3 separate regions of the Homo sapiens genome follow, and regions 2 and 3 are each linked to region 1. Evidence: fine-mapped expression QTL. A gene starts in region 1. Each other region holds a variant in brackets. All regions are shown on one strand. Distances are between the middles of the regions. Region 1 holds the start of BHLHE41 (basic helix-loop-helix family member e41). Region 2 holds the start of LOC105369704 (a long non-coding RNA gene). Region 3 has its middle 21 kb from the start of SSPN.

Region 1 (2,763 bases):
TTCTGTAAAGCAATTATCTTCTGATGCTGTTGCTCGGTTAAGGCGGTTAAAGCTTTTAAGTGTTTCAAAGTTAATTCCAAGACTACAGCTTTCTCCAGATGTCCCAGAGTCTGCAGTGGTGCAAAAAAGAAACGGGCACTTGGTTACTTAAAAACACACATTTGGCTTAATTGGCTGTCCATTCAGCACAGCAATTTAAGCAAACACTTTGAAAGAAGTACTGTTCTTTTACTTCTTGAGCTTTCCACAAGACAGGTTATAAATGATTTCTTGCCTTCAGCTGGGAGCACCTACTCCAGTTTGCGGGAAACTCTGTACGGTATAGCACAAGTTTTAAGTCAGGAACTTATATTTACATTTATTCTTATATTTTCTGGGAGTCGCACCAGACTATTAACACGCCCTTGGAGAGCAGCAAAGAATGAAAATGTGCATCTTACTGTCAATTTCAGATGTTCAGGCAGTAAATCTTTCAGCTGAGCAATGCATTCATTAATTCGGTCTCTTCTTTTCTTTTCTATTAATCTGTGCGGTAATTTGTAGGTATCCTTAATATATGAGAGTCATGGAAAAGAGAAAACAGTAAGCGAAACATTCACTTATTGGATATTACCCTCGTCTGCCCCCCCCGCCCCCCCACCATAAAACATACTATGTGATAAACTACACCCAAGAAACCTCTTTCCTCTGGACTGTTCTGCAATGCAATTTAAATTCAGGTATGATGTTTAATATCCCCCTGAGAGTACCCAGCAAGCCACTTAAAATTCACAGTTGGGGAAGCTCAGGGGCTGGAATATATTTGCGGGCAGAGCTTCACTGTGAAATCAATGGCTCTAATTAACTACCCATGCAGGTTATGAGGAATATCGGGAACTTACACTTACCTTGGTGTCGTCTCGTTTCATGCTCCTTTTGGGTTTACACATATACAAAGAGGAATAGTCCAGTCTGCAAAACAGAAATCAGCATCAGGCACCCATTCGGGGAGGGGCTCTGCCCTCGCCAGCTCCATACCACTTTCTGGAGAAGAAAAAAATCAAACCAAAGCCTAGACAGATATTCGCAAGGGTGCGTGCACCTTACCCTATAAAATCTCTATGTTCCAGTAACTGTCTCTCTTGCAAATGAGGAATTCCTTCGTCCATGTTCAACTGCTGTTCGTTTCCTCTGTTTCGATTTTTGGGGCTCTGTACAATAATCTGTGGGACGGTAGGCTTGGGAGACCTTGGGGGGATCTGTGCGTCTCCAGTCTCTCTCTCGCTCTCCCTCTTCAGTGCAGTGTTGAAAGTGTGAAGCAGTTGGTCCCCCCCCTCCACCGCGCTCGCACACACACACGCACACACACGCACACTCGCGCCGGCCCCACTGCGCTGGTAGTTTGCTCTCACTCCAGGCAGTGTTTGGCCACAGGGCACGCGCGTCGCCGGCCAGACCAGCACCCAGCTCACGTGCGGAACGTACCATCCGCGGTCCAGCCCGGAGGGGGGCGGGGGAGGAGGGGCCGGGCCGGGCGGGGGCGTCGGGAGAAGGCGGCGAGAGAAGGCGAACGGCAGGAGGGGGCGGGGACACCTGATCAGGGCCACCGGAAAGGAAAAACAACTTCGGCCAAGCTATTCATCTTCCCAAAGGCGATGCAGTCGGCAGGAGGAGGGGGGAGTGGGGGTGCAGGGGTGCGGGGCAGCCTGAGCTTCCTTGGCTCCAAAATGCGACTCCCTGGGTTCGTCCGTTGTTACGGTGCAGGAATGTGAACGTGGCTTTTTGCTTTTCCACCGATTGTGCTGTTGGTTTGAACCATAGAAAGGAAGTGAAAAGAGAATTCGCGGTGGGTAAACTTGAGTCCCAAAGGAAATTTTGGAGACTTGTTTGCTCACTGATCAGTGGCCTGGAGGGACTCCTTGGCGCTGGGTGGAGAGGTTGCCTCGAGAAGAAGCAACTTGCAATCCGCTCCTTGAAGGATTTAAGATACATGAAAACGTTGTCACTGGGTCCGAATGTCGCAATCCAAGTGTCTTTCGGTGACACGGCGTCCCTGGGCCAACTAAACTTCCCCGCAGCAGCCGGAATTGCGGTGCCACTAATCACAGCAGCAGATGACGACGTTTGGGGCCGCGTGTGCTCCTGGAGGAACGCGGCGGGGAGCGAGCCGGGGTTGAGTGGGGGCTGGGAAGGGAGAAGGGGGTGGCACGAGAGGGGGTGGCACGAGAGGGGCTACCACAGAAAAGCTATGCAGCATTTATCACCCGCCCGCTCAACTCTGCCGCGTTCTGAGCCTCCGGTGACGCTACGTGCTTTCCCCATCCCCCCGCCCCCCCGCGCGATAAGAGACGCCCGGAGTGTGCAGAGCCCACGTTTACTACCGCTGGCACCTCCAAAGCCTCCCTCCTTAATCCGGTCTCAAACGGGTACCAGCACAGGGCCAGCAACGTGATCCGACCTGCCGCTGCTGCCACATCACTGCTCGGGGAACCCGTGCGCGCGCGCGCTCGCCCTGCAGCCGCGGCGCTCGGCGCCGGGAATCACAGGCCAGCAAGAGCCGGGTTACCTTTCCCCAGAGCCACCCTGGGAGCATGACTCACTGCTAGTGAGAGTTACCGGGAGGTGCCCGGGGATGCGCACTGCCCACGCCGCCCTGCCAGCCCAGGGGAAGGCATGTCCTGAGGGACTCCCAGGGGTGGGATGGAGGCTATATATATATTTCTCTAGATATACATAAAGACATAGAGAAAAAAACCAAGGTTTTTCCTGCACAGAGAGGGATAT
Region 2 (2,763 bases), 150 kb after region 1:
CTCAGCACGCTGGGCAGATTCTGCCTCCCGCAGCTCAGCTCTGGCTCATCAGGAGATAAGATCAGAGACACTACGGAAGGGCCAGGTTTTAACAAGGCAGAAAATACAAGCTATTCCAAACATGAGGCCTACTGTGCAAAAAACAAACCCCCTGGCTTTGGGGGCCCTCTCCTGGAGAGGGTTTCTCTGCTCATAAAGATTGGTATCAAGGGGTGAGGAGGGAGTCATGCCATCCCAGCAGGACCTCCAGTTGAGGGCTTCACTTTCAATTACCCAAGAGCAGCTGTAGACTGCTGCTTATGTAATGGGCTCTGCGCCTCCTTCTCGGGAGGAGGATGTGGAACCGTTTTGTGTTTGCTGAATAATGAGTCATGGTCAGAGTTAGGGAGCAGAAACAGTGACTCTCTCCCCTGCATTGCTTCATCCGGAACTTCTAGTAAAGAATGATAAGCCCTGAGTCAGTGCCCAGTGGGGCCTGCCCTGGAAGGGGAAGCACCACAGGAGGCTCTGAAATGCAGGCCCCACAGAGCCCACGCACCAGGCTGAAGGAGACTCTGGGGGCATTTGAAGCCCAGATGGGCTGCTTGCAAGAAGATTCACTGTTTATTTAGGCCTGTAGCTGAGCTGCCAGGGTTTTCCTATCTCGGGTAATCACAGCTCCTCCAGCCAGGATCCAGGAGTGTTGGGGTGAAGACTGAGGCTTCAAAATGAACAGAGCTTTCTCCAAACCTCATTTTAGCTCTAAGAAATGAAACAAGTCAGCCGTACACGGTGGCCCTGCTGTAATCCCAGCATTTTGGGAGGCTGAGGCGGGCGGATCACGAGGTCAGGAGTTTGAGACCAGACTGGCCAACATGGTGAAACACCATCTCTACTAAAGATACAAAAAAATTAGCCAGGCATGGTGGCGAGCGCCTATAATCCCAGCTACTCCGTAGGCTGAGGCAGGAGAATCACTTGAACCCAGGAGGCGGAGGTTGCAGTGAGTCAAGATTGCGCCATTGCACTCCAGCCTGGGTGACAGGGTGAGACTCCATCTTAAAAAAAAAAAAAAAGAAAGAACAAGTCTGAGGGGCGGGAGAAAGGGCACGTTTATATCAACTGAGAAGTCAAAAGGTTTGGTTTTAGCCAGAAAGGGAAAAAAAAGACACATTATTGCTCACATTCTGAGGTCAAACAAACAAACAAAACCCCTGAGAAAACAATATGAAGCCCTGTAAGAAAAGGCTTAATGGACCAGAAA[T/C]TATTTGTTCCTCTTCATGTTTCTGAGAAATGTGGTTCAAACTTTATAGACTTTCCACATCAGCAAACAATTAATCATGGCTTGCACTCCCACCCCACCATGCTTTTCAACATACCTAGCAAGAAGCCACAGGCCATTTCTTGTCTTTCTGTAGCAAATCACAGACCAGATCTGGGTGCATAAGCGAGGTTTCCTATGGAGTTGGTGGGTTATTCTATGGTGGGTGCTGCAGGAAGTTCAGGGCAGCTTGCCTAATGCACAAGGAAGGGAACATTTCCTTCCCTGTGCAAGGCTTCAGGAGACTGACCCCTGCCTATGACAGCATAACACAAAGCTCAAGGTCAAACTGCCTGGGTTTGAATCCCAGCTCTGCTACGGGCCACCAGCTATGTGAGTCTGGCACACAACTGATTTCTCTGCTTGGATCCCTCATCTGTAAAATGAAGGCAACAAAAGCTGCTACCTCGTAGGGTGGTTGTGAAGACTAAAGTAAAACTTGTAAAGCATTTTGAGTGTTTTTCTTTTTCTCCATCATTATCTTTTAAGGTTAGCCTAATGTTCATCTCTAGTGACTTCTATCTAAAAATTTGTTAGTGAGACAGAATAGCATAAACAGGTCTTATGGCCAAGCAGATATGGCCTTTTTACAACTAGTAAAATTTTTCTTTAGAATTTTCATTTGCAAAATGGAGAAAATATAAATTTATAGTAAGGATTCGATAAAGTATATAAAGTCGTTTAGCTTAGAAAGTGCTCAATAAGCGGTACTTTGGTTATAATTCTCAATAGACCTGAATCTCTGCTCAAATAAGTTCCGTATTTCATTATCCCATGTAGCAAGATGAAATCCCAACACCCAGATCACAGACATCCCTTTAGAGTATTTCTACACATATTTATAATATAAAATTTCAGAGAGGAAGGACATTCATAAAATTCTAATTTAAAACAAAATCCTTAAGGCATCTAATTCTTAAGGCAAAACATTTTGTTGTTTGGTTGAGAAAAGGAAGGAGGAAAGATGAGGCAATTCTTTAGATTCTTTAAAGAAGGGCTCTTTCAGCTTGAGTTATATTGATTGACTTCCTGGCTTGAATCACTTCATGGTATTTTGTTCAACTCAGCTGACCATAGGAAGCAGATGACATACCTCCTCTGAGACTGGCTCTTTAGCACCAGATGGACAAGATAAGTGCTATAAGATGAGGGGCAGCCACATGGCTGACATCGTCATCGTCATCATCATCATCATCATCATCATATCATCCCATGTAGTGTCCACATGTAGGGAGGAGCACTTCTTGTGTGTTGAGCACAGCACTAAAGGACTTTACATATTAACTCAGTTTTATCCTTACAACAACCTTGTTGGCTTAATATTATTATCTCTATCTTTTTTATTTTTATTTATTTATTTATCTATTTAGAGACAGGGTCTCATTCTGTCACCCAGGCTGGAGTGCACTGGCATGATCATAGCTCACTGTAGCCTTGAACTCCTTGGCTCAAGCAATCCACCT
Region 3 (2,763 bases), 49 kb after region 1:
TATACATTTCGTGACCCTTCACTGCCTATTTGTACTTAGACACAGGGACAGGATATAATGGCTGACGGGCTTCTGGGTGATTTCCAACTTCCAGAACTGGGAAACTTTACTCTGGGGTGTGAACTGCCATTCTAGGAGTGTCTGTGTGTTTCCTTTCTTTAGAAAAGAGCGTGGGGACAAATGTCAGGGTGGCCTGTAAGGGTGTCGTTCTGCATTTAAGAGTGGAAGTAGTGGTGGTGGGTGCAACTGTTCTCTAAATAGATCTCTAATGAAGTCCCCAGGTTTCAGGTCCACCTTTGAACTTTGCCCTCTGTAACTACAGATTCAGCCACTCCTGGGAACCCTGGTGCATCCCTACTCTGGAGCCTTTCTTTTTGGGGATATCCAGGGCCTCTTCTGCTATCATGCTCTTTTTCTTTTTCCATTGTCCAGATATTTGCTGATCTCTTTCATATGCTGATATCTTCTTTGCTTTCTCCTTACTCTTATAGGTTTCTTCTTTTTTCTCTTCCTGTTTTACTACTTTATGACCATTTCTATAGGGTTTCAGGAAGGAAGGTAGGCAAATACATATGTTCAATCATCGTCTTTTATAAGAAGCCTGTGGTATTTCTCTTAGAAAGCTATTTTAATCATTGATTGACAAGCCATTGTATCTTCAAATTTTATATTTCAAGGAATTTGGAAAGTAAATCTCTATGCATTAAAATATATTGCCCTTACCATTTTTCTTATTTCGTTTATTACGTCAACTGTGGCTTACGTGGATGATTAAACTTAAATAGTGTCTTCAAGGATGAATGAAGCAATGAAGATTTATTTAAACAATACCATAAAACTACTAGACAAGGAAAAATTCATTTGCAGCCATCTCCAAAACTCAAAGAAATATGTGATACATGAGATTTCTATATTAAGTTTATAAATTTTTTAAGTGAACCATCCTATGACATGGAAGGCAAGCTTGCCTGGCTAAAAGCATCCCAGGGAGGAAATGGCCAGGGTTTCGTCAGTCACCAAGAAGATAAATACACCCTGCTTAAACCCAGTAAAGGTGAAAAATAAATCAGGAAACTTCTTTGCGGTAGCCATGAGAAATGTTAGGCATTATTTGAAGGTCAAACTCACACTTTCAAGGCATCATCACTAACTTATACAAGCCTGATCTCTAAAGACTATCTTGGTTAAATATTGATCATGCTTCAAGCTCCACTTAAACTGCAAATACTGACCACATCTACCTATTTTTCTCATTATCAGCTTTATTGAAGTATGATTGTCAT[G/A]TAATACACTGCACATATTTAAAGTGTAAAGTTTGGTAAGTTTTCCCATCACCTTCTAAAATTTTCTTGTGTCCCTTAGTAATCCCTACCTCCTTCCCCATCCTGCTACCCACGCTTCCTTCCTTCCTTCCTTCCTTCCTTCCCTTCCTTCCTTCCTTCCTTCCTTCCTTTCTTTTTTTGACAGAATCTCACTCTATTGCCCATGCTGGAGTGCAGTGACAAAATCCCAGCTCGCTGCAACCTCCGCCTCCCAGGTTCAACTGATTCTCCTGCCTCAGCCTCCCAAGTAGCTAGGACTACAGGTGCATGCCACCACACCCGGCTCATTTTTGTATTTTTAGTAGAGACGGGGTTTCACCATGTTGGCCAGGCTGGTTTCGAACTCCTGATCTCAGGTGGTCCACCCACCTCGACCTCCCAAAGTGCTGGGATTACAGGCGTGAGCCACCGTGCCCGGCCTCCCCCTACCATTTCTAGAAACCATTGATCTACTTTCTGCCTCTATAGATTAGTTTGCGTTTTCTAGGATTTTATACAAATGGAATCACTAGATGTATTTTTTTGTTTGTTTTTGGTCTGGCTTTTTTCCCTCAGAATGATTATTTTGCAATCCAGCCATGGGTTTGTTTCCATGTTAGGGATATTACAAATAAAGTTGCTATGAACATTTGCCTACAAATCTTCATTTGTGGGTGTAGGCTTTTACTTATCCTGGGCGAGGTCATATGATAGACGTCTTTAACTTTTTAAGAAATTACCAAACTCTTTTCCGAAGTGGGTGTAGCATTTTGTATGCCTACTAGCAGCGTGTGACAACTGCAGTTTCTCTACATCCTCACCAACACTTGAAATGCCCAGTCTTTTCAATTTTAGCTATTCCCATACCTATGAAGTGACACCTCGTTGTGATTTAATTTGCATTTTCCTAATGACCAATGATACTGAACATTTTCTCAGGTGCTTATTTGCCATGTATCTTCTCTTGTGAAGTGTCTGTCCAAATCTTTTCCATTTTTTATTGGATTATTTGTGTTTTGATTACTGAGTTGGAGAGTTCTTTATATATTCTGGATACAAGTTCTTTATCAATATGTGATTTGTAAATATTTTCTCCCAGTCTATAGATCACCATTTCATTCTCTTGCCAGGTAGCTAATTTTATTTTTTTGTGATTTTTATGGGAATTTTTATGTTTTAAACAATGATAATAGTCATATTTATAATTAGCATATTCAGGAATCTATTTGTTTTAAAGAGCTATACAGAAAAGCTGAGGTGATGCCAAAATTTTAGCTCAATAAACCAACATTTGAAAAAAGCAGTTCACTTCAACTGTGAGATATGAATCTATAATGGGAAATACAATTCTATGGAATTCACAGAGCTTACTTGTTAAAAATAAAAAAAATTACAAAAACTGTAATTCTAATGGGCTTAAAAAGCAAATTCAATTCCGAGTATAAAAAATTTATTTTGAGTT

What was found. PIP is the estimated chance that this variant, and not a neighbour inherited with it, causes the effect. A credible set is the group of variants that fine-mapping cannot tell apart.
Region 2: its variant is the best candidate, but not a certain one, in a credible set for the expression of BHLHE41 in thyroid (GTEx, PIP 0.62).
Region 3: its variant is the best candidate, but not a certain one, in a credible set for the expression of BHLHE41 in testis (GTEx, PIP 0.51).

What each region holds. Positions count from the first base shown.
Region 1 is chr12:26,123,632-26,126,394 of GRCh38, forward strand. It overlaps BHLHE41 (basic helix-loop-helix family member e41), which reads right to left and starts at 1,406. Exons shown (of 5, transcript NM_030762.3): 1 at 1,087-1,406; 2 at 888-951; 3 at 441-548; 4 at 1-110. The coding sequence starts at 1,148. It also overlaps a transcript of SSPN not described here.
Region 2 is chr12:26,274,501-26,277,263 of GRCh38, forward strand. All of the region lies in intron 1 of LOC105369705 (a long non-coding RNA gene), which reads left to right. LOC105369704 (a long non-coding RNA gene) reads right to left here and starts at 1,555. Exons shown (of 2, transcript NR_188068.1): 1 at 1,359-1,555. RefSeq lists enhancers at 228-667, 688-737. The variant T/C (reference allele first, on the strand shown) is at 1,244.
Region 3 is chr12:26,173,079-26,175,841 of GRCh38, forward strand. It overlaps a transcript of SSPN not described here. Among named protein-coding and RNA genes, the nearest start is that of SSPN, 21 kb to the right of the region's middle. The variant G/A (reference allele first, on the strand shown) is at 1,284.